Linked DNA regions of Homo sapiens. The protein of the gene in region 1 binds, or shares a complex with, the protein of each later gene. Each region holds a gene or a part of one and is shown on either strand. Other genes may lie near its edges. The genes, in order: VPS41 and VPS39.

Region 1 (13,224 bases):
CCAGGCTCCAAGAAATCATCTATCTCCATCTATGCCTGGAGGTACATGTGAACACTCACTGAGGTACTGCCACCTTCTCTGTCTTCCCAACAAACTATGCGCCCTAGCTGAGCATAATGAGAAAGAGAGTTCTGATATAGGCACTGTCTGATATAGGCACAGGAAGGAGGAAATATTTTGTGTGGTATGTATGTGATATCCCTGTTGTCACAGAGCTTCAATTTAAAAAACCTCAAAGGAGTTGTGGCCAGCTTTAGACACTCAGGGACTAGGCTGGTTGAGTAGTAAAGATGAGGACTCAGGTTACCAAGCCCATTCAGCCTACTGGGCTCAGCTACTGCACTCATCTTATTCTGCAAATGAAGAAAAATCTTGACGTGTGCCCCAGCGTGGAAAAGAGGGCAAACTTGGTAACCAGGTGACCCAGTCCCAAATCTGCCTTTGCATGAGAATCATCAAAACTCAGTTTGGGGAATTAGCTAATACCCACTAACACACTCCATCTGCACAGACTCTGATTCAGTAGGTTTAAAATAAGAGCCTGGAATCACAAGCCATTTTTAACAAAAACAAAAACAAAAAAACCATAAGGAGGCCCAGGCATCAAGAAGAAACAAAGGCAACAGGGGACTGCACAGCCATGAATGGGAAGTAGCATGAGACACAGAAGCCCCTGATCTGATGAGTGTCCTCTCTCCAAGGTGTTAATGTGGGCGCGGCGGAGGCTACTAATAATCAGCTAGTGAAGTGGCCTCTAGCCGACCAATTCAGGTGAAGATAAGTGGAAAAACTAACAAAGCAATCCGCTAGTCCAGCAAAACTAATCTGTGACTACATTTTAGTTACATGATGGGAAAGAGTGCACCCTCTAAAATCTGTCTGATTCTATACTTTTAAAACTTCTTGTTTGGGTTTTGTTTTTCCTTTAGTTAGTAGTAACACTGCCTTTAAAATATCTATCTTAGCCAAACTGTAAGAAAAGAGAATTGTGCATACGTAAGCCAAGTCCAGGTTTCGATGATTAACCTCTGTCTTATTTATACAACCATTTCAACCTAGCCACTTTAACATACTTTATATTCACAAAAGTTTTAACATACTTCATACTCACAAAAGTTTTAGAGAGTAAAATTCCCAGTTACAGGCAAGAAAATCGAAGCACTCAAATTTGTATTGATTTGATTTTTATTGTAACATAATCACATGGGGATATACATGACAAATATGACATCTAATAATCCATAAGTGATCTACAATAAGGACAGAATTCCCCTAATTTCTAAAATGCAGAAGGAGAATTCAAAGTAGAAACTCTCCTACTTGATTAAGAAATAGATGGTCTAATCGTGGAAATACTTTAATGGACCAGGGTCCAGGTTGGTTGATTAGGAAGATCAAAGGGTACCTGGGGAGCAGGCAAGAGTAAAGAAAGTATAGAATGTAACCTACATTATAGTATAGATGTAATCCACATTACATCTGAATTAATAACTTAAAAAAGGTGCAAGTAAGATAAAATAATTTCACGCAAATCCTACTAATATACAATTTGACAATTTGAAATGCTATTTTCCCCCTAATAAATTCATTTAAACACTTTACTAAACACTTAGTACCTATAAAGCACTAGCCCTGTGGAAGATACAGACATGAGTAAGTTCTTGTTCTTATTCTTGAGGACTCAGCAATCTCTAGGAGAGATAAGACAAATACACAAACAACCAGACTTCAAGCAGAATGTTATTCATAAGAAAGATATGGACAAATACTGTTGGGCATCTGTGAATATGAAGGTCAACTATAAATCGTTTTGGAGCTAAGCAAAACTGCTGGTTAGAAGATTTCCAGGCAGAATGCAGGGTATTCATTTTTTCTGTAAACTATAAAATATATATGTAGTTACTTTTGACAACTACCTTTACCATATTAGGCAAAAGCAAGAATTTCCCAGTGACTTATAAAAAAATTTTCATTCATACCTAAAAAGTGGTTTTAGTTTCAGATCCTCTGAGCTGTTTTATACCACAATAACTCAGTGCAGATGTCACTATTTTGGTTCTTCTGAAAATAAATGGGGAGGGGAGCAATCACCAAAGAAACAACACTCACGAAAGATAATGTGGAGACATTTAGTTTTGTGTTGCTAATCCTGGAGATTACTGGCATTTATGATACATGATACCAAGAAAAAAATGTATGCCAAGTTTTCTAAAAAGTTCAATAGAACAGTTATTTTCTCCATTTTTGGGGGTTTTTTTGTTGTTGTTGTTTGTTTTTGAGATGGAGTCTCCCTCTTGTCACCCAGGCTGGAGTGCAATGGCACAATCTCGGCTCACTGCAACCTCTGCCTCCTGGGTTCAAGTGATTCTCCTGCCTCAGCCTCCCGAGTAGCTGGGATTACAGGCGCCCACCACCATGCCTGACTAATTTTTTTGTATTTTTAGTAGTGACGGGGTTTCACCATGTTGGCCCGTCTGGTCTCGAACTCCTGACCTCAGGTGATCCACCCGCCTCAGCCTCCCGAAGTGCTGGGATTACAGGCATGAGCCACCGCACGCAGCCCTATTTTCTCCATTTTTATACACTTTTAGCTTTAAAAAAATGGTATAATAAAGCCCTACTACCGTCATCAGATTTCAATGGCTTCCTACTGTGAAATGCAAAAACAAATCAGAGAAAAGCCTAACCATTTTTAATCTATAAAGGATAAGATTAGGTACAATTACTTACTTTCTTTTAAAAAAAAGAACTGAACAATTTGTGAATGTGTCTTTCAGCCATTTACAACAGACTGCTGGGTTTTTTTTTGTTTGTTTTTCGTTTTTTTTTTAAACAGGGTCTTGCTCTGTTGCCCAGACTGAAGTGCAGTGGCACGATCATGGCTCACTGCTGCCCCGACCCTCTTGACTCAAGCAATCCTCCCACCTCAGCCTCCCGAGTAGCTGGGACTACACACCACCATGCCTGGCTAATTTTTGTAATTTTTGTAGAGATAGGGTTTTGCTATGTTGCCCAGGCTCGTCTCGAACTCCTGGGCTCAAACAATCGCCCCACCTTGGCCTCCCAAAGTGCTGGGATTACAGGTATGGGCCATTGTGCCTGGTCCACGACTAGTCTTTTTAAGATACTGACACCACTGGAGAGGAGAATGCCCACTCCAACTACATATTGGCTGTTAAAGCATCAAAGTGGAATGGTGGCTTGAGGGAAAATCATTAAAATGGAAAGGGCTAATTCTACTTCATAAAGTAAAAAAACTATTTAGATTTAGGTTCTTACATATATTTTAAAAAGGTAGGGTATTCTAGTGAAAAGTCATGAGCTATGGAGACAGAGGACTGGAGATTTATTATATTATAGATATAAGCCTGAGCACGTTACTCAAGTTGCCTGAATTTCAATTTGTTTATCAGTAAAAGTCAATCATTTAACACAAATTTATTAAGTAACAAGCAATATTCTAGGTATTGGACATACAGCAGTGAACAAATCCTTGTCAGGATGTTCCAAGCTCTGTGGTAAGAGGTACACAGAAATATACAGGGAAAAAAAAAAAAACAAATTTTATAATACAGTATGTCAAACGGTGATGCACATTATAGGGAAAAATAATGCAGGAAGGTTTCAAAGCATGGTCAGGGAAGGTCGCAATGAAAAAGAACACTTGGACAAAGACATGAAGGAAATGAGGAAGCCTGTAAATATCAGGGTTCCTCAAAAAGGAACAGCATGAGCAAAGAGGCCCTGAGATAGGAACCTGCCTGGCTTTTTGAAGACTAAGAGAGCCAGTACAGCTGATGCAGAGTCACAGAAGGGAAGGAGAGTAGTGGGAAAAATGAGGTCAAGAAAAGGTGGCTAAGGGCAGCTGGGTCAAGGTCCTGTGGGACAACCAGGCTACCGTAATGGCTGTGGCTTTTCCTCTGAATAAGATTAGAAGCCCCTGGAAAGTCTAGAATATCAGAGGTGTTTCACCCATGTATGAGAGTAAACATTTACCTCATAGAATTCTTTTGGGAAGACCAAATGCAATATGGAAGGGTTTTTAAAACTAGAAAATAATGTACAAATGTGAAACATTATTATATCCCTAATTTTGTATGTGTCATTTTTATATCAGACAACTTTGTTAAATTCTTCTTCTGCACTAAACAGTGGTAAATATTTCATAGGTTTTTTTCAATGGAAGAAAAAACAATGGTTTTTCTAGGAGCAACTCTCTCCATTTCTATTCCACTATATCTAAGAACATATGAAACTCAGTTTTTTGCTTTCAAATCAAACCATAAAACAAACATTTCAACATGAAATAAAGATGCACAATGTGAAAAACAATCTCACCCTTATTCAAAGGAGCAATGGCAGTCATGAAATGATATGTTCTTAATGAGTGTTTTCCTTTGAACTGCTAGAATGGAAATAGGAGTCTCTAGTGTTAGATAAGAGACTTTGTTATCTTGTTATCACAAGGACCAGCCAAACCAAATTTCTACCTAGTCAAACGTCTCAATTATTGGCATATATAAAATATATACAGAACAAATTTTCACTATGAAGTAAAAACAAATGAAGTATGTTGAAAATAGTAAAAATTATTGAACTAGGTAAATGACTCTTATGATACTAAACAGCCCATCATCAAGTCACTGTTTAGAGACAATGACTGCAACTGACAGCCCTGTTAACTTGTGAAGAAAAACAGTATCCAACTGAAATAACACTGGAAATGGAAACTTAAGTTATCTCCCCCAAGTTCTAGCCTCTTTTTTGGTCTGCTTCTCTTTTTTGTCTTTTTTATTTTACTTCGTCATTTCATAAAATGTGTGATTACCACTACTGCTATATGAAAATAATTCATATTCCCATCACCAATTTCTACCCTAAACTTCAGTGCCACGTTGCCAGTTGTTGACTGGATACTACCAGCAACAAATAATCCCATTTAATTTTTACTAAGCCCAACAGTTCTAAGTACTCTAACTTTGTGTATAAACTCCTCTCTCCATCTTAAACCACCCTCTGAGGACGGCCTTATTATTACCCCCATCTCACACTGGAAAGTTAAATAAGTAGCTCAAAGTAGCACATTGGGTAAGAAAAGGAACCAGCACTTGGACCCCAGGCATTTTTGCTCCAGAACGGATGCATTTAATCCCTGCTGCACCGCAACAGTGCTCCAGCTCTGTACCTAACTCCAATAGATACAAAACAAAACTCATCGTCTACTCTCTCCTAGTTCTTATTGTCCTACTTCAAGTGGAAAGCAACTTAAATTTCAGTCACCCGGCCTCTCTTCCTCCTCCCACAGGCAGTCAGTCCCTGAGGTAGCCGGGCCTGCCTTCATGCCAAAATTTCCCTGGGCAAAGGCCACAGGGATGGGGCCCGAGGAAAGGCAGCCCGAACGCGGGGGTGTGTCAGAGCGCTTTCCCTAGGTGCCCTCCCGGGGCTGGCATCCTCTCTGCTCCCCGAAACCAACTTTCGCCATCCCACCCCGCCCTGCCGCGGACCTGCCTTGCGCTATTCCAGCAGCTCCGCACCTCCACCCACTCCACTCCACCCTCCCCAAACAGCCCACCCTAGTCTCTATATCCCTGTGCCCTCAACTACCACCTGCACCCTTTACCTGCTCCTCTGCTTCCGCCATGGCGCCACGGGAGAGTCACCTGACAGACCCGGAAATAAGAGGAAACCACACACTTGGCCCAGGGCCTTCTGGGAAATGTAGTTTTAGCTTCATCTGAGCCTGGAAATCTCTTCTAGGGGACGGACCTGCTAGGGTTCATTTCTGCTGCCAATTCTCCAAACTCAATGGAATTCTGCTTTGAAGGATGTGAACATAACCATTGCTAATACTATAGCTTATTTTATTGTTGTTCTTGTTTCTCTAGTTATTCTAGTGTTTATTAAGCACTTACTATGTCATGCCCTGGGTTTATAGCTTTGCATAAATTATCTCATTTAATCCTCACAGCAATTCCTACTATCATCCCCATTTATAGGGGAGAATACCGTAGCTCAGAGGTCATGCAGCTAGTAAGAGGCAGAACTAGTAATAGAATTCAGCCCTGCCTGATGCCAAAGTCTCTGTGATTGCCAAATGCTGCTTACTCTAAAAGTGTTCTTGTCCTTTTTTCTCTCTCTTTTTTAAGTATATTCAGTGAATATAAAGCAGTCTTTGCAGTGGAGAGTCAGAGAAAATTTATACGCCAACAAATAATATCATTATTTTTGCTTGCTACTTTGTCTTCTCCTGTCATATGAACATTGATTTAAAAAAAATCTCTGTTGTTTAATAAATTAATTGTTAAACTTTTGTTGAGGATATTCAATAGGTAAATGTTCAAGTGAAGACACAATATGAAGTTGTCCTTGGTCAAAATCTGCACAACCACTGTATTACTTCCAGCCTTCAGAATGACTGATTCCTTCTCCATGTTTCTGAACATTATGAATTCTGTTTCTTAACCCTCAGGAATCTGCAGCACCTTGTCCAAAGACAGACATTTTACAATTTCCATTCACTGGAGTAGCTGGTGACCAGCAGAGGGCATTGCAAATGGCAGCATGTGGTGATTGCCTCAGTACCTTTTTTGACTCCCTGTGCCTCATTGACTCTGACCCAGTAGGAAGTCATGGACTCAGTACTCTGTCTGTAGCTTGCTCAACCCATGATTCCTCAATGGCCCAGAAGCCAAGGTGACATCATCTCTGAGACACCTGTCTTCTCCCCAGGGCCTAAACAGCCTTACCTCCATCTTCTTCCTCCAAGCCTTGCTGGGGTTCCTCTTCCAGTGGGCTAATCACTCAGCCGACAGGATAGACCACCCTGAGGCATTTAAATGTCTATAAGCAGCCAGGTGCAGTGGCTTTCACCTGTAATCCCAGCACTTTGGGAGGCCAAGGCAGTCAGATTTCATGAGCTCAAGAGTTTGAGACCATCCTGGACAACATGGCAAAACCCTGTCTCTACAAAAAATACCAAAAATTAGCCGGGCATAATGGTGTGCGCCTGTAGTTCCAGCTACTCAGGAGGCTGAGGTGGGGGTTAAGGCTGCAGTGAGCATTGATGGTGCCACTGCACTCCAGCCTGGGCAACAGAGTGAGACCCTATCTGAAAAAAAAGAAAAAAGAAAAAAGAAATCCATAAGCAAGCACCCAATGCCCTAAGTATAAACCTAGGGCAAGTATAAACCTAACCCAAGAGTTTCTAAAATCTCTTGCAAAGCAGCCCAGGGCCAAACATTGCTCATGATGAACTCCAGATCCCAGAAAAACTTTAATACAGACCAAAGAGACTGTGGAAGCCCTCAGTCGAGTATCCACGGGAAAGAGAAATAAAATGAGCTCTTCCACTTTTCTGACTTTCCTCACAAACTCCAATTTTCTCTTTTCTGTTATGAGTGACAGCCACCCATAAACCTCTAGGACTACAGCCTCTCCAACTGGGCAATCTCCTCTTCTATGCTGAATGGATGAGATTGGGATGAAGAAGGAAAATAAGGGATTATTACCACTGTCTTAACCACAAGGTCATTTTTGTTTTATGGTTCCATTTTATTTTGGTGAGAAGTCAAGCAGCCCAAGCAAGCAAAGCTGAAGGCCATCCACTCTGGGCCTTCCTGGCCTTTCTACTTTTCTGGAATGAGAATGTTTATTCTCTTTCTCAAGAAGGGTGTTATGGGTCTTATTAAAGATATAGCCAGACTTTATAGGTTTTCCTCTGCTCATTTAACCGTAGAAACTCTCAATTCCCCAAGTTTGTTCCGCATTCAGTATACTCTCTTGATTACAATAAAGTATTATGAGCCTCTTTCCTTTTGGAGAGACTGGAAAAGTGAAGAGACACAGGTATGGAAAGGTGAATTAGAGGAAGAAACCTACTATGAACTAGCAGGTTCGTGCTGGGACAGTGGACAGGATGAAATTCACATGTGACCTCCAAATCCCATTTGCTCATGTGAAGTGAGAGTTTGAGGCTCTCTTATCTAGGTGGTCTTGTATTCTCCAACTACTCTAAGTGTAGTCCAAAGACTACCTGGGAGCTTGTTAAAAATGAAGAATTTGGGGCCCTTTGAGAGATGTATTTAACCACAATCTGGATTTTAATAGTATCCCTCAGTCATATGCATATACTTTCAAGTTTGAGGAGTAGTCAGCCTAACAGTCACTGATTCTGTGTCAAATCACCTGCTCAGTCCACCCTCTCCCAACTTCAAGATACGGAGGTAAAGGGCTGGGCGCAGTGACTCACGCCTGTAATCCCAGCACTTTGGGAGGCCAAGGCGGGCGGATCCCCTGAGGTCAAGAGATCGAGACCATCCTGGTCAACATAGTGAAACCCCGTCTCTACTAAAAATACAAAAATTAGCCAGGCGTGGTGGTGTGCGCCTGTAATCCCAGCTACTCGGGAGGCTGAGGCAGGAGAATCGCTTGAACTCGGGAGGCGGAGGTTGCAGTGAGCCAAGATCACACTACTACACTACAGCCTGGTGACAGAGCAAGACTCTGTCTCAAAAAACAAAAACAAAAACAAAAACTAAAACTAAAACAAAAATGCAGATGGAGGTAAAGGTAAGATTCAACTTCTCATTCTCAGTCTATAGGACCTAAAATTGTTAATAGACTTCAGAAAACAGACCTAAGACCTTATATTTGTAGAGTGGCTCACTGGTTTCAAGGATCTGTCTCATATGTTTGTTTCGTAGGTCTGAAACAGTTTACTAACTCAAATTATAGCCATTTTATTCGTGACAATAGCATTATTTCATTGCTTAAACAATATGAACGGCTTTAATATTTTCCATTATTAAATAGCATTTATAAATTCAGGAAACTTGAAAAATCGGCAAAGTGGACAAAGTTAAAATAATTCACTCTTATGCCCTTGCTAATTAGGGGATGTGTTGTAGATTCTTTTCCCAATCTTCAGCTTCCATTCCTTCTTAGATTGCTACCTTTCTCAATCTACAGGTGTGACAGCTAATGACAAGCAAATTTACACCACATTACACTACTAATTCCAAGCTACAATCTTAGCCTTTATTTAATTAACTGTACCAAATAGCTAAAAGAATATTGATGTTATCTTTAGCAAATTTGGCCAGCCTCAGCTTATTTTGCAGTTTAGTTTTTCCAAAACTGTACCTACTGAAACCTGTTACCTTCTAATATTCTAAATGTCATTTTAAGATATAGCTTATTGGAAATTTCCCTGAGCAACCACATTAGATTTTCTTAATAACATTTTTCTAATTACAAAAGTACTATGTGTTCATAATAGATAACTGGAAAAATACAATAAATTATAAAATAAAATTCTAAAACCACTCATGATTTCTCCACTTAGATTATGATTGTTGGATATATGCCTTTCTTTTTTCTTCTCTTTTTTCTCTCTCTTCCTCCTTTCCCCTCTCTGTCTCTCTGTATTTATTTAAAAACTTGTCCAACAAAGATCATATTACCAAGTTTTGTCATTTTTTTTTACTTAGTCATATTTCAAGATTGTTTCCCAATAACAATCTTGTAAAATATTCTTCTAAAACATGATTTTAATAAAACATGATTTCACATTATAATTCCATCGTATGAAAAGTAATGTATATAATCATTCTATTTTGTTGTATACTTTAAGTACATCTAATTAACATCCCTGTGCATAATTCTGGAAAATGCTATAATGCAAGGTGGTATCAACTGCAGGAATAAAGATCATCCAAATGAGAAATGCCATTGAGGAGTTATTCAGAGCTTACTCTAGAAAGGGAGTCAGCCACCAGCACTTGCGCTGTGGCAGAGACTCAAACACAGGCACAAGAGTGGGAAGGTAGGAAAAGGGAAGGCTTCAGGTAGGCCCTGGTTGGAGGCTGCTGGCATGAGAAAGCTGCAGGTGGGGTAACCAGAAGTGGGGCAACCTATGTGATTGGTAGGGGTGGATATTTGGTTTTCTCTGGTTGCTCTTAGTTGGAAGTGGGAGTAAAAATTAAGGAAGTTGTCAACTACCAATAAAGTCCTGGTCATTTTAGGCTGATTGTTTCAGAGGTTATAGTTAAGGTTCCTGGATTGTTACTAGAGATGGCAGTTTTGACTGTCAGGCTAGATTCCTGGGTTTTCTATTGTGGACAATGGCTTGGTTTCCTGGGCAATTGCTGCAGCTTGCTTCAGACTGTGGGTCAGAGTTCTATTTTAATATCTGGTCTGGCCAGTGCCCCTTTATATATTCAGTCTCTCACAATTTATTCTACAGTGAGCTATATATGAGAGCTCTAAACCCTCCTACCATCAAACATTAGATATTATCATTTTTTACACATTTCATTAATTTAGCTTGGGGAAAATAGTATTAATATTTTAATTTTTGTTTTAACTGTATGTCTTTGATTTCTGATGAGGGGATGTTTTTCATAAATTTACTGGCCATTTTCAACTTTGTTCTGTCCTTTCTACTCTTGCTCTTTACCCATCTTTTGTGGGAAAGTTGATCTTTTCCCTATTTGGCTTGTAAAAGAAATGTTCAGTAGATATTTGGTTATTTGGTTTGAAGCTAGGAGGAGTCTGGTGCTGGATGTAAATAATCTGAGGTCTTCAACATATATTAGGTTGGTGCAAAAGTAATTGCAGTTTTTGCCATTACTTTTAATTGATACTTGAGGTATAGTATTGTGTAGTATTACAACCTAAGAGAGAATCTTTGGAAATACATAGATTTGAGGGAACTTTGAAGAGGTAAAGTTTAGACTCACTGTGGTGGTTCTCTTGCTAGATTCTTGTGAAATTAGTGTGCCTTGATTTGCACGAAGGGGTTTTATTGGTAAAATCAAATAGTCACTTTATTTTCCCAATTCACAGAAAGAAATCAATTGATTAATGGGTAAAATATTTTATTTAGGGTTTTCACATATGCTTTCTTGAAATCTTTGATTTTTTGCTATTGCTTAGCTATAAACAAGCACTGAGACATAAAAATACATAAAAATAGTAAATAAATCCCAACCAAAAAAATCAGAAAGAAACTATAAAGCTTGCTTTGACAACTTCTTACTTTTAAACATGTACCAGGCACCTAGCACAGTGTATGTGCATAATAGGGTCACTATAAATATTTGTTGACTGAATCAATTAATTAATTGAACATCTTTCCATTCATGGTGCTTTCTCAAACTAGACTATTTGGTGCCTTGCCACCTGAGTACGTTTCAGACCTGTTCTATGAGCAAATAAAAAGATATTGAAGATTTAGAGCAGTGAAATGACACAAAGAAAGTGGTATCTGGGACGTTTAAGTCAGCCATTGTGTGAGAGTTTGAAGGTGGGAGTGATCAAATCAGTTGGGAAGATCAGACATGACTTCAAGCAGCACATCAAGTGTTCCTTAAAGGATAGGTAAGAGGCTGATGGTAAGAGGAAAGGGAAAATATTCCAGGTAAAGGGAACAGTATAAGAAGAGACATAAAGATAGGCCGGGCGCAGTGGCTCACGCCTGTAATCCCAACACTTTGGGAGGCCGAGGCGGGCAGATCACGAGGTCAGGAGATGGAGACCATCGTGGCTAACACGGTGAAACCCCGTCTCTACTACAAAAATACAAAAAATTAGCTGGGCGTGGTGGCGGGTGCCTGTAGCCCCAGCTACTCCGGAGGCTGAGGCAGAATGGCATGAGCCTGGGAGGTGGAGCTTGCAATGAGCCAAGATGGCTGCCACTGCACTCCAACCTGGGTGACAGAGCAAGACTCCGTCTCAGAAAAAAAAAAAAAAAAAGGAAGAGACATAAAGATGTGGAATAGCATCCAAAGAGTCAGATACAAGACCAATTAGGTAGGATGGTGCTAGAGTCTGTCAATATAAATTTGTGTATAATTCCACAGGCAGTTGTAGCAGAGACTGCTAAATGCCTGCCTAATATCCATTCACTTCTACTTTATTGGTAAAAGAACTCCTAAAATATTAGGGGCAGCAATATGTTTAAATAAAAGACATTTCCTGGTCTCCATCACAGTTAGGCATGGCTATGTAATTAAGTTCTGGTCAATGACATACAAGTGGAAATGTTATGTGTGCCTTTCAGGGAAGTCTATTAAAGGGGAACAGACATCTGGGGATACCCCTTTCACCATTTCTGCCATTAGATTCTCCAGCAACCACACAGGTCCCACAAGTGACCTTGAGGATGAAAACCAAATTCTAAGGATGAAGCAGAAAGATAGGAGAAGCCTGGGTCCCTGATGACTGAAGCCAACACGCTCCTCTAAACTGCCTGCCTCCAAACTAATGTTTTGTTTTTTTTTCAAACAGGGTTTTACTCTTGTCACCAGGGCTGGAGTCCAGTGGCAGGATCTTGGCTCACTGCAACCTCCGCCTACCCGCTCAAGTGATTCTCCTGCCTTAGCCTCCCGAGTAGCTGGGACTACAGGTGTACACCACCACGCCTGGCTAATTTTTGTATTTTTAGCAGAGACGGGGTTTCACCATGTTGCTCAGGCTGGTCTTGAACTCCTGAGCTCAGGTGATCCACCCACCTCGGCCTCCCAGAATGCTGAGATTACAGGCGTGAGCCACTAAGCCCAGCCTCCAAACTCATTTTGAATAAAATAATAATCCCTTGTGTTATTGTAGCTTGCCTATCACAAGCAGACAGACTTAATACTAACTGATACAGTGGTAGGGAGCCATTGAGGAGTTTTGAGAATAGAAATGACTCAGCCAAAAGACATCACCTACTGCACCTGAGGAAATTATTATTCTTCTACTTGCCCACCTGACACAGGAGAAAGGGAGCAATCACACGCTCGTGTGTGAGAAGAACAAATTTTCAGATTATAAAAGTTTTGGAATCTTGGGACATAGGACAAGAACATTACTGCCAGGGTACCAATTTGCATTTTTTTTTCCAGTTCATTGTGATATTTAAGAGCTTGAGAATCAGATCAGGATTCAAATTTTGTGTGTGCCATTTATAATAAATCTAGGACAAGTTAACTTTTCCAAAGTCCAGTATTCTTAGCTATTAAATGGGCTAAAAGTACCTTCCAATCAGGGTTGTTGCAAAAAACAAATGAGAAAATGTAGGTCAAGTTCCTTGCCAAAGGCTGGGGCCTAGTTGTATTTATCACTGCTGTACTGCTATTTTGTTTCCTGCACTTCAGTATACACATAACGAACACTGCAGTCTCCTCTTCAGGTTCCATTTTTCATGATCCTCATTTAGAGGCACAGGACCACTCTCAAGAC
Region 2 (12,557 bases), on another chromosome or scaffold:
CAGGATGATGTTCTTAGTCATCCAGAAAAACAGAGTGATTCTATTTTCTTTGATTTGGGGTCTTAAAGGAAAGGCAGGTCACACACAAAAAAAATGTTGAAATCAGAAATAACAGCAGCTCTAATGAAGGCTGGAGATTTATGCTGCAGCAGAACATGAAAAAATAAAAGAATTCATTTTGCAATATTTGTTTTGTAAAAGATACTATATTTAGAACTTTATAGATATCATGATATCAAGCAATTTAGCAATATTAAAGTTGATTTTTAGGCCACCCACTGATATTTCAGATATAAATAAAATGAAGTGGAAATTTTTTAAAAATCCACTCATAACATACATAAAAATCTACAACCAAAACAAAAGGCCAACATAATGTTCATCATCTTCCCCATCCTTCTCTCTCCACTCTGTCCCCCAAATCCCTGCCAGTTCCTGCTTTTCTTTATCTTTTTTAATAGCCTCAGCTTCCTCCCAAGTCGGCCAGGGTCTATCAATTCTACCTGTAATGGTACCTCATGACAGCCTCCTCCTATAGAGTCTCTCTGGGGACCCCTGTGACACCTTCAACTGGTCTCATTCACTCCATGCATTCTCTCGCATTTGCTGTCAGTTATCTTAGAGCAGATCTCTGATGCTGTCACACTGGGGCTTAAAAAATCCTGTGAAGCTACACTACCAAAATATGAAGTCAAATTCCTAAACATGACATTCAAGAGTCTATTTTCCATTTTTATTGAAATGTTTCTTGCCAATAGATTTTTTAATTTACTTTTTTTTTTTCTTGTGAACCCAAACTAAGACATGACAAAACATTTTAAAAAGTCAAATGTCTAGGGGCCGGGCACGGAGGCCGAAGTGGGCGAATCACTGGAGGTCAGGAGTTTGAGACTAGCCTGGCCAACATGGTGAAACCCCGTCTCTACTAAAAAATATAAAAATTAGGCCGAGTGTGGTTGGCTCATGCCTGTAATCCCAGCACTTTGGAAGGCCAAGGCGGGCAGATCACCTGAGGTCAGGAGTTCAAGACCAGTCTGGCCAACACAGTGGAAACCCATCTCTACTAAAAATACAAAAAAAATTAGCCAGGCATGGTGGTGTGTGTGCCTGTAATCCCAGCTACTCAGGAGACTGAGGCAAGAGAACTGCATGAACCCCGGAGGGAGAGGCTGCAGTGAGCTGAGATCGTACCACTGCACTCCAGCCTGGGTGACGGGGCAGGACTCTGTCTCAAAAAAAAAAAAAAAATTAGCCAGGTGTGCTGGTGAGCACCTGTAATCCCAGGTACTAGGGAGGCTGAGACAGGAGAACCACTTGAACACTGGCGGCGGAGGTTGCAGTGAGTGGAGATTGTGCGCCATTGCACTCCAGCCTGGGTGACAAGTGTGAAATTCTGCCTCCAAAAAAAAAATTAATTAAAAAAATAAAATGTCTATTCTACTGGTCATAAAAGGGAATCAATCCGATGGATTAAATTCTCTGTAAACTTTTAAATCAACCTGATTGATTACATGTGCCATTAGCCAGAGGACCTGTCCCATGTTGGGTCCTCCACTCTCTAGGACACGTTATTTAACAAAGCTGTGCATGCACAACACAGAGGATGACAAGCCTGCAGAGCACGCGCAGCATGGGATGGACAGTGCCTTCTGAGACTCAATACAGTAACACACAACAGAAAGTGAGACATACTAAGCAAACACAAAACGCACACATAAGCAAAGCAGTATCAGCCCTAAAAAACTCCTGACGGCCTAACCCTGAGCCACAAGGTTGGACTTAATTCCTCCTGAGAAGGAGGGCTAGGCCCTATTGCTCATAATTACCCTAATGGAGCTCCTTCCAACAGTGCAATGCAGTCCAACTTCATGTAATAAATTCCATTTCTGGCCCAATGCTGGCCACTGCAGGGACCACAAAGATAAGTAAGATAGTAGTCACTTCCCTTCGTTGGGTAACATGGCAAATAACAGTACTTCTCATCTGGGCATAAGCCCCCAATTAGCTGCATTAGAATCACCTGGACTTATTAAAAATGCACATTCCTGGGCCCTGCACATGGAGATTCAGATTCAATGGCTTTGAAGTGGTACCCTGAAATTTACATTTTAAAATTTAATCTTGTTGGCTGGGCAAAGTGGCTCACGCCTGTAATCCCAGCACTTTGGGAGGCCGAGGTGGGCGGATCACCTCAGGTCAGGCGTTTGAGACCAGCCTGGCCAACATGACGAAACCCCGTCTCTACTAAAACTACAAAAATAAGCCAGGTATGGTGGTGGGTGGCAGTAATCCTAACTACTCGGGAGGCTGAGGCACGACAGTGGCTTGTACCTGGGAGGCAGAGGTTGCAGTGAGCTGAGATTGCACCACTGCACTTCAGCCTGGGCGACAGAGCGAGACTCAGTCTCAAAAAATAATAATGAAATAAAATAAAATAAAATAAAATTAAATTAAATTTTATTTGTTTTTATGAAACATTCATGTAGTTCCAAAGCTAAAACGACGAAAAGTCTAGTTTCTATCATTGTCCATTTTATCCTCTCTTCTCCCTTCTGCTATGGGCATCATTTTAGTAATTTTTGACTTATCTTTCCATTGTTTCTCTGGAAAATATAGGTATGTATGTATATATAGACATACAGATACTCATATATACATGTGAAGTCTGCATTTTTTACAGGCTTTGAATATACATTCAAGTTTGAGAACCAGGCTCTAGAAGCAGACATGATTTACAGGACATGTGACCTTGGAAAAATTTCTTAAATTTTCTAAGCCTTAGGTCTTTCTTCTGTAAAATGGAGTCTTATTTTATAAAAGCCTAATACAGATTAGCATTTAACAACTGCAAGCTATTACTATTCATATTAACATTATTCATTAAATATATATTTAATGAATACCCATTGAGTCAGGAAATGTTTTAGGTACTGCAGATATAGCAATGCAGAAAACAAAGATACTGCCCTGAGGGAACTTATATTCTAATGTGGAGTGAGAGAGGCAATAATAATTAAATATATAAAATAACAGTAGATGGTGACCCATGATTAGAAGATAAGGCTAAGAAAACAGCACATTGGTGGATGTGGCAATCTCTTTTATATAGGATACACAGGGAAGGTTTTGCTGATTTGGGTGACATTTCAGCAGAGAACTGAGTGAAATGAGGAATGAACCATATATACAAAGGCAAGTGAGTGCCAGGCCAAGGAAACAGCAAATGTAAAGGCCCTGAGGTGGGTATGTGCTTTGTGCATTGATGGAACAAAGAAGGCTGTGTGGGACTGGTACCAGAAAGGAGTGAGAGGTAAGTACACAGAAGACAGGGAAGAAATCAGGGCCTGATCATGTCAGATGTTGCCAGACAGGGTGAAAACTTTGGAACTTATTCTAGTTGTGATGTGATACCATGAGAGGGTTTTGAGTAGAGGATGGAATCAGATTTAGGTTTTCAAAGTTTCACTCTACCTGGTAGACAAAAAACTGAAAATGGCACACTGGCAAATATAGGGTGATCAATGAGAAGACTACTACAGTAATTCAGGTGACAGATGATGGTGCCTTCAAGAGTAGTAATCATCAAGATAGAGAGAAATGACTGGATTTCAGATTTATTCTAGGGGTAGAACACACAAGATTTGCTGATAGATGGGATACAGTGTAAAACAGAATGAAAGAAGTCAAGAACGATTCCAAAGCTTTTGGCTTTAGTCAAAGAGGTAAATAGAAATGCCACTTGCTGAGACGTAAGATACAGGAGGACAGGCATGTTTGAGGGGAGAGGAATCAAGAACGGTTTTGGCTATGCTACTGGACATCCAAATGAAGATGCTGAAAAGGCAGCAGGATTATACAACTTTGGAGTTTAGAAAGAAATCATCCTCATCATGTTCTCTCCTGATTTCTATTTCCCAGGAGACAGAGTATGTTGTCTCTAAGACATTTACACCTCAAATACTATTTGGCCCTGTGTGACCTGCCTCTGGAAGTTCCTGGACGAACTTTCCATCCAAAGGCACAATGTAGTTAAAAAGGGGTAATGACTAGAAAGAGCAATAATTACTGCTGCTCAAATCTGGAAATAAAGCACTTTTGAAGCAGGAGGCAGTTAATGGCCTCTTGTAACCTAATATGTACCTAAGCACCTTAGGAACCAAAGAGCATTTCTCCTGTTCGGTGGGTGATCAAGGAAGGCCAAAAGCTACCTATTGTTTCAAAACTGTGTTCCTGAAAACCACAGGTGCAAGGAATCTTTACTGTGACAAAGTGGAGTTGGTGAGAGTCTAGGAGCACTATGTGCTAATGGTCCAACAGGAGATCAGAGTCAAGGATTCTGACGAGCTAAGTCAAGTGTAGCCACAGCTGCATTAATCCCTTTCAGAAACATATGTCCTTAGCTGAGTTGGGTACCCCCTCATCCATGTTGCAATAATAGGCAGCATATGTCTCTAGTATTATAATCTGTTCACGTGTATTTGTCCCCCAGTGTGTGTCCTAGGAGCACAGGCACTGTTTCTTATTCATCATTGTATTACTGTCCCAAGCAAAGAGAATGGCCCGTGTAGCCACCTAATAAGTATATCTGATGAAGCAATGGGGGAATTAATCCTTTCATGCAGTGTCAGGTCTTTCATTTAAAAACTTTTTCTCCTCCTCTATTTAAATGTTTAATGAGAGCATTTAATGACAGAAATTGGTTTTCTTGAGATGTCTGGAGGAAGTAGGATTCTCCTCTTAACCCAAAGGACTAGAACTGCTTACTGTGGAGGTATGATTTTAAAGAGACCCAGAGCTGCTAAAGGAGGAAGGGTGCACATTAACATGAAAATTCTTCGTGAAAGAACCCTACAGAAGAAGTCATCAAGAACTCTGCAAGGATGACTCGGTGACACTGTGAACAGCTGACGCACATGGTATCAGACACCACCAAGATTCCATAAGGCCCATCATGGTTACCTATCTAGCTCAGTATAAGATCTGATTAAGGGATCTGAATCATCTTTTTATGGTCCTTGATTTCTAGGACCTAAACATTAAGAGGAAAGTTAGAAATGATTTCCTTGGTCTTTGGCGGCTGGTATCAAACCAGTCACTCACGGATAAGAGCACAATGTTCACCGTTATCCCTGAAACCTTCATTTGTATTTCAGAGCACACAAGAGATGTCTGTCCCGGCCTTCTGCACTAGTCAATCCCAAAAGGACTATGCTAGTTTTTATGGGTTAGGTTTCAAGACAGTCTGGAAACTCTTCCGCCTACAGTTAGGTAACTTGGACACTTTGGATATAAGGTAATCAACCGCTTGGCTAGATTCAAAGGTTAGCTAACTACATGAGTTCCCTACAGGAATGAGAAATGAACGAATGATCACTAAGGGGAAAAAAAAGCATATGGTGTTAACTTGTTCAATGCCCCCAAAACCAGGGTTGACTTTCATCTAGAAAACAACACAAACATCTGGACAACTTCAAGCCCCTGGCAGGCTGAGAACTTCTTACTGCTTTGACCCTCTAAAATGAAGTCTTCGTGGGAATCAAAATGGGCCAAAGCTGAGCACAACTAAAAAGGAAAGCTCATCCTCCCACTCTGCACAGAGAGCAAAAGCAAGGGGAACTCCCCTAAATGACTGGATCACTGGGATCACCCAAGTAGCCCCACAGACATCGATGTCTATAGCCGGTGGTCATCTCTCTGCCTTCTCTCATCCTAAGCCCCTCTCGTGTAGCATCCAACCGAAGCCCACACGGATGGACGCCTGTCCACTTCCCCGGCCTCAGAAAAGATCCGGACCGCTCCTGTGCTGACTCCGCCTCGGCCCCGCGGCCCCTCGGCTCACCCCAGGCAGCCAGACAGTCGATTTGCAGAGGCAGCTTTTCTAGGATCGGCACTGGCTCGAAAGCGTCGTGCATGGCGGCAAGGGGAGAGTTGCCACCGCCGTCTCGCCCAGAGTGTTCCGGGCCGGGCTGGGGTCCGGAACGAGTCTGGGCTAAGGGTAGACCGGGATCCGGCCAGGAACCCCCCGGCTACAGGCCCTTCAACAACACAGCCATCGTCAACCCCGGACTTCCTGCTAGTTAGGCCCGCCTCTTCCGCAGCCGAAGTCCCGCCCCTTCCTCCCGGTGCACTCTAAATGAATTGTTTTGTTGCTGAGTTGCCATCGTCACTCTGGACCCATAGCTACTCCATCCCGAGTAGCCATGGGCTTACCATAGAAGGAACAAACTCTTAATCTTAGAACTGCTTTAGGCAGTGGGCGTGATGGTTAAAAACTCGGCCTTTGGCGTCGACCTCAGACGGAGATCTACCAATTAGGAAATTAGCTGTGATTTAGAAAATTTAATATTTCGATGCCATACTTTCCTAATCTGCAAAATTTTTGTAAATACCTGTGACCTAGTGTCGTGAGCGCTTAGCAACACCTGACACCCACTAAGCTCTCAGTAAGTGGTAGCTTTAGTATTACCATTATATCCCAATTAGTACAAGCACCTTACCTTAATGCTTTCATGGTTGTTCTAGGCCAGTGGTTCTGAAAGTGGTTCTAGACCAGCAACAACAGCAGTAGCAGCAGCACCTGTGAACTTGTTAGAAATGCAAAGTTTCAGGCCCATTCCAGTTCTACTGAATCTGAAACTCGAAGGGAACAGCAACCTATGTTTTAATAAACCCCAAGGTGAGTCCATGCACTTAAAAGCTTGAGAACCACCATTTTAGGTTAGGGTTGTTCAGCGATAGCACTACCGGCATTTAGGACAGGATAATTTCTTGTTGGGGGAGGGGGCATGTTCTGTACAATGTAAGATGTTTAACAGCATCCCTAACTTCCACCCACCAAATGCCAGTTATCTTCCCCACAGAGGTATAAAAATGTCTCTTTTCCGTATGTCCTCTGGGAGGCAAAATTACCCTGAGAACCACCATTTGAGGCCAATGCTTTTCAAATTTAACGTGCATACAAATCACCTAGAGACATTGTTAAAATGCCTCTTTTGATTCAGTAGGACCAGAGTAAGACCCTCAGTTGAGCACCAAAAATCTCCCAGATGTTGCTGGTCCCTGGATCACATTTTGAGTAGCAAGAGTTTAGGCAAGAGATGATTCACTAACTCTTGGAAGTCAGTGAAATAAGCCTCCTTTTAATTTGATGACCACATTCCTACCAATTCAACTTTCCAAAGCTGTGTCTTACATCCTAATATTCCTTTAGGAAGGTGTCATGGCTTTTCCTCCTATAGGACCTGGGACCTGTACTGTCTGCGGTTACCTTAGTATTCCCCTTGAAGACTTAAAAAACAACAAAGTTTGGGCTGCAAGAATGATCTATATCTGGTCATTTCCCCCTAGGAAAACATCGTAGGTCAAAAAATTAAGCATTTGGGTTTAAAGCAAAAATGTAAAAGAAAAAGGGTAAGTCTGTGATATGAAGTCAAAAAAACTGGTCCTGGTCATTTTATTTTTACACAATATCAGTTTCTTCATATGTAAATTAGGAATACTTGTCCCATCTTTACCAAATGCTGTTCTGATAATCAAGTGAAAAGTACTTTCAAGTAGTCAAAAACATGAAAATTGCTACACAAATCCTGTGTTATAGCTGATTTTCACCATAGAAGCTGATCACCTTCTTAAAAATTTAGAATTACCAGCTGTTGTGCTGGAAGGTCTAGTACCTTTTCGTTCAGGCCCAAAACCCTAAGGTTTATATTGTTTTACAGATTACTGCAAAGCTATCAATTTCTTCTGAACCTAAGAAATGACACACTATATCTATTCCCAGTAATACAGAAAGCTGTAAGTAGAATTATCAGGGCCCAGGCTATAGAACTTGAACTATACACTCCCGCTTAACACAATGGGCTTTTTTTTTTCCTAGTCTCAAGTCAACATCAAAGCAGCCTAAAAAAATAATTTGACCAACTATCCTGCTGCATTACAACTATTATTCATCTGCTACGTTTTAATATGCAATAGCAGCATGCAACAATACCACCAGCTTTTGGCTAATGACTTAGCATGAGAATATAGTCAGTTCTTCAGATTGCTGTTCCTCAGAGATACTTCCTAGGAAACTTTTTTAAAAATCACCATAGCAAAGAGTTGTAGAGAAACTACCTAAGGGTTAACACTTTCACTGCAGTATGAGTTAGTGAAGATTGTGGTCATGTGGTCATTGGTTTTAACAGAAAATAAGACAATCTAGAATAAAAGCCATAGAAAGAAATTTTTCATGAGTTTGACAGAAAGAGTCTTTAGAAAAAGTTTGAAAAAAATGAGAAAAATACATTAATTTTGTTAAATTTTTTTATATTAAAAAGTGGCATGAACTTTTTATGTAGAACAAAAATCTTGGGAAGGCAAAATTGGATAAAACCATTAAAACAGAAATAGAGTGCTTCAAATGAATCCCATCACCTTGTGATGTCCCTTATTAACAGTCTCTAAACCAATACCAGATACCAGAACAGTCCATCCTAAAGAACGAGCAGCAGTCCAGGGCCTCCACGCTACTTCATGCAATAACTGTTTAAATTAAGCCAGCAGGACCTGTTTCCTTTGTATAAGCTACAACTTCTGAAGCATTACAGTTCCTCTAGCACGGTGCTCAATCACAGCACTTGGAGCACCTCTCTGCATAAAGGCAAACAAAACATTGCCTAAGGACCCTGCAATGCCACCCTTGGAGGCTTACAAAACAGTAGTTAAAAGTTTCGGAGTGTGCACCACATTGCCAGCAATGGGATGTGTCACAATAGCAGATGTCAAAAGAGTTAAGCTAATATTTCTCTTTAAAGTACATCTGAAATAGAAAAATCTTTAATATACACCATTTGTAAACAAAATTGCACTTGATTTTGCTTTTTTAAATGATCTGAATCATACTGTAACAGTTTCTCTTTTTTTTTTTTTCTTTTGATCATTGATAGAACTATGGCTCCTTAACTCAGAAGGGCCCTTTTTTCTCAAAACAACCTCTGCAAGATGTAACCTTGACTTCCCAGGAAAATGAAAGGTAGTTAACAATTTCCCCCATCACCTATGTAACTCCCTAAATAAATAAAAATTACAGGCAGTTGCTCCTGGAGATTACATATTATGGTGTTGATGACAATCTTTTAGAAGACGTTAAACTTTTTAGTTTGTCAGATTTAAAAAATGAAACATTACAGAAAGTTCAGGAACAACACACTTAAGTTGCATGAACATCCATGTCAGAGTCTGGGAGGAAAGGGGGCAGCAGTGTTGTAAATAAGAAGCTCGTAGATTTTTCTCATCTTATGAACTTGTTTTCAGTAAGATGTTCTCTTTGTTCTGACACCTCTCGCCAACTCCAATGCCCAAAGATCAAGGAACAGATCAGGATGTCATTGCTTCCTTTAATCCCATGGAGCCGTACAGAAGACTGACACAGATGCTGATCTCTTCCCTGATGGTAGCCATCTTTAACTGCAAATCTTCCCATTCCTTACTCCATTTTGGACCTTTCAAAGTGTGTGATCATTCGTTCCTAGGGAAAAAAAAAAAGGTTGAAGTATATTAGGTTAAAATGATCTATATTCCAAATATCTTCTATACAGACTATCCAAGCAAACATCTTCCACGAGTACTTTATGTTAATTAAATGTTTAGAGAAATGGTTCCTAAACATTTGTGAAGATTTTGAACATACAGATGTCCAGACCTCACCCAAGAACAACTAAATCAAAAGCTCTAGGCTTCTGGACAGAAAATCAGCACTCAGAAGGAAATGTATAGAGTCAGCTAAGATCTTATGTAAACAAATATTTACATAAGATTAGGCTTTAATAAAAATGTGTAACTCCTCTAATTCAGGAATTTCACTTGAAGACCCAGTGAAGGATGAGGGCAAAGACGTGCACCTAGTTAGCACTTTGCACTTTAGAATGGTTAGGAGGGTTGATTTGTTATGTGTTTTTTACTACACTTTTTAAAAATCATGTAAAAAATAAAATTACATTTAATTTAATATAGTATTTACAGTATCCCATTTCAATTAAAATAATTAATGTACTACCCTTAAATTTCCCTTCTTAGGCAATTTTATACCTTAGAGTTAATTTTCATTTTTCTTTTGCTTCATTTGCGAAGTACCTCTCACTATTGTATCACAAACTGACAGAACTACAAATCCTTTTTGAATATAATCAATCACATCAGATAATCTATAGATGTTTCCCTTTTTCTTAAAAATATCCTTTCCGATGCTCTCTGTTCTCCACTCCATCCAAGCCTGGTGCCCAGCTGCCAACCTGAGAATTTCTTACATCATACTGGGAATTTTTCTTGTCTCTGTGTTGGACCCTTTATTTCCTAGATCCCAAGTCTTTTTCCTAGCTTCCTCATTTTTGTGGAGAACATTTTCCCCTACTTTCTTCAGAAACTGCATATAGAACATCAATTATTTTACTTCTTGTGTGACTAGAAACATCTTTATTTTACCCTCATAATGATAGTTTAGTTGAGTACAGAATTCTAGGTTGAAAATGATTTTCCTCAGAATTCAAAGGCTTTGTTCTGGCTCCCAAAGATGTTGTTGAAGAGCCTTATGCCATTTTGATTCCTGGTCCATCATGTAAATTGTTTCTCCTGTAATTCATTTAAGGTCTTTTTCAGTTTTAAGGGAAAAAAAGGCCTTGGAGAAAGTGATGTCAGCAAGATGACAGAATAGGAAGCCCTGGACACTCCTTCCCTCTACAGACACACTGATTCAATAACACATGGAAAAATTCCCTTTGTGGGAAATCCAGAAACCAGTTGAGGGTCTTCTGCACTATAGGAAAGCATGAAACCAGCTGAATCAAAGTCGGCAGAAAAACCTGAGGCACCCTCTTGCCATAATTCTTCCCTTCCCATGGACCCAGCACAGTACCACATGATAGAGAGGAAACCCTCAGCTCCCAGCTTCTTTTTGCAGAGGGAAGGAAATGACTGGAATGTACATCCAACATTCTGACTTTTCTGGAACCTGCACGAGAGACTGTTTTCTGTCTTGCCTGAGTCCGAGAGCTAAAAACAAAGGGCCCAGGTTGGAAGTTGCTGAAATCAAAGTGGAAGTTTGGACTAGCAAGCATGAGCTCACTACAGCCGCTCCCCCAGCTCAGTGCAGAGTAAGCAGGTAGAATCCCCAACATCCCCAAATCCTAGCTTTTCCCTAGGGAGGAGAGATGGACTGTGAAAATGTTCCAACTTTGTAAGAGGTTACCTGAGGGAATGGTTTCTGTAGGGAATGGTTTGAAGCACAGATGGGACCAGTATATTTTAGGTGCCTGGGGCCAGTATGAACAAAAAAAGAGCTGGGCTATGCCACTGGCTCCAGGAGACCCATGATACAGCAGATAAACACAAAAGGGAGCAAGAGATTATAAATTCCTGGGGAGGGAAAAACCCAGCAAATCCCTCTGATTGGGAATACATATGCAGAAGTCCAGAAAAGACATAATACAGAGTGGGTTAGAGAGGCTATCAGAATGATTGATGAGGGTGTTCTCCTGTACAATGCCAGTCCATGAACACTGGAAAGGTAACTGTTTTTTTTTCTAATGCAATGAAACCAACACAAAGAATTAAGGAAAATAGAGAATCAGTGAAACATGGCCCAAACAAAGGAAGAAGATAAATCTCTGGAAACCAACCCCAGTGAAACAGAGGTATAGGAATTATTTGAAAGAGAATGCAAAACAACTATCATGAAGATGTTCAACGAACTCAGGAGAACAATGCATGAACAAAGTAAGAATTTCAATAAAAATATACAAAACATTTTTAAAAATATGCCAAGAAACTGGATAACCTAGAACAAAATATATAATTCCTAGAAGTATACAATCTACCAAGACTGAATCATCAAGGAATAGAAAATCCGGGGGGGGAACACACAACCTGGTAAGACCTACAACAAGATTCCATCAGTAATCAAAAACATCCCAACAAAAAAACAGCCCAGGACCAGATGGCTTCTTTAGTTGAGTCCTACCAGGTACTTAAAGACAAAGTAACACTAATCCTTCTTAAACGCTTTCAAAAAAATTAAAGACGAAAACATTTATTTGGAAGGAACTTCCAAACTTATTCTATGAGGCCAGCATTACCCTAATGCCAAAGCCAAAGACATGACAAGAAGAGAAACGACAGGCCAATATCCCTGATGAGCAGACGCAAAAATCTTCAATGAAACAATGGAAAACAGAATTTAACGGCACGTTGAAAGAATCACATACTATGACCAAGTGGAACAAAATAGAAAGCCCAGAAATAAAACTACACATACATGGTCAACTGATCTTCGAAAAGAGAGACAACACTACACAGTGGGGAAACTGACAGTTTCCTCAACAAATGGTGCTGGAAAAACTAGATATTCACATGAGAAAGAATGAAAGTAACTCATCTTCACTATACACAAAAATCAACTCAAAATAGATTAAAGACTTAGACAAGTCAAAATAGATTAAAGAATTAGACATAAGATTTGAAACCACAAAACTCCTAGAAGACAACCTAAGTTTCTTGAAATTGGTCTTAGCAGTGATTTCTTG

What was found.
Region 2: VPS41 (region 1) and VPS39 share a complex: the UniProt entries of both Homo sapiens proteins name them as parts of the homotypic fusion and vacuole protein sorting (HOPS) complex.

The regions. Positions count from the first base shown.
Region 1 is NC_000007.14:38,903,534-38,916,757, forward strand, and holds the start of VPS41 (vacuolar protein sorting-associated protein 41 homolog), read right to left. Parts: upstream 5,659-13,224; 5' UTR 5,642-5,658; coding exon 5,621-5,641; intron 1-5,620. UniProt on the Homo sapiens protein: Plays a role in vesicle-mediated protein trafficking to lysosomal compartments including the endocytic membrane transport and autophagic pathways. Acts as a component of the HOPS endosomal tethering complex.
Region 2 is NC_000015.10:42,202,242-42,214,798, forward strand, and holds the start of VPS39 (vam6/Vps39-like protein), read right to left. Parts: upstream 6,064-12,557; 5' UTR 5,913-6,063; coding exon 5,840-5,912; intron 1-5,839. Other genes in the region: TMEM87A (transmembrane protein 87A isoform 4 precursor), read right to left, coding at 9,467-9,508. UniProt on the Homo sapiens protein: Regulator of TGF-beta/activin signaling, inhibiting SMAD3- and activating SMAD2-dependent transcription.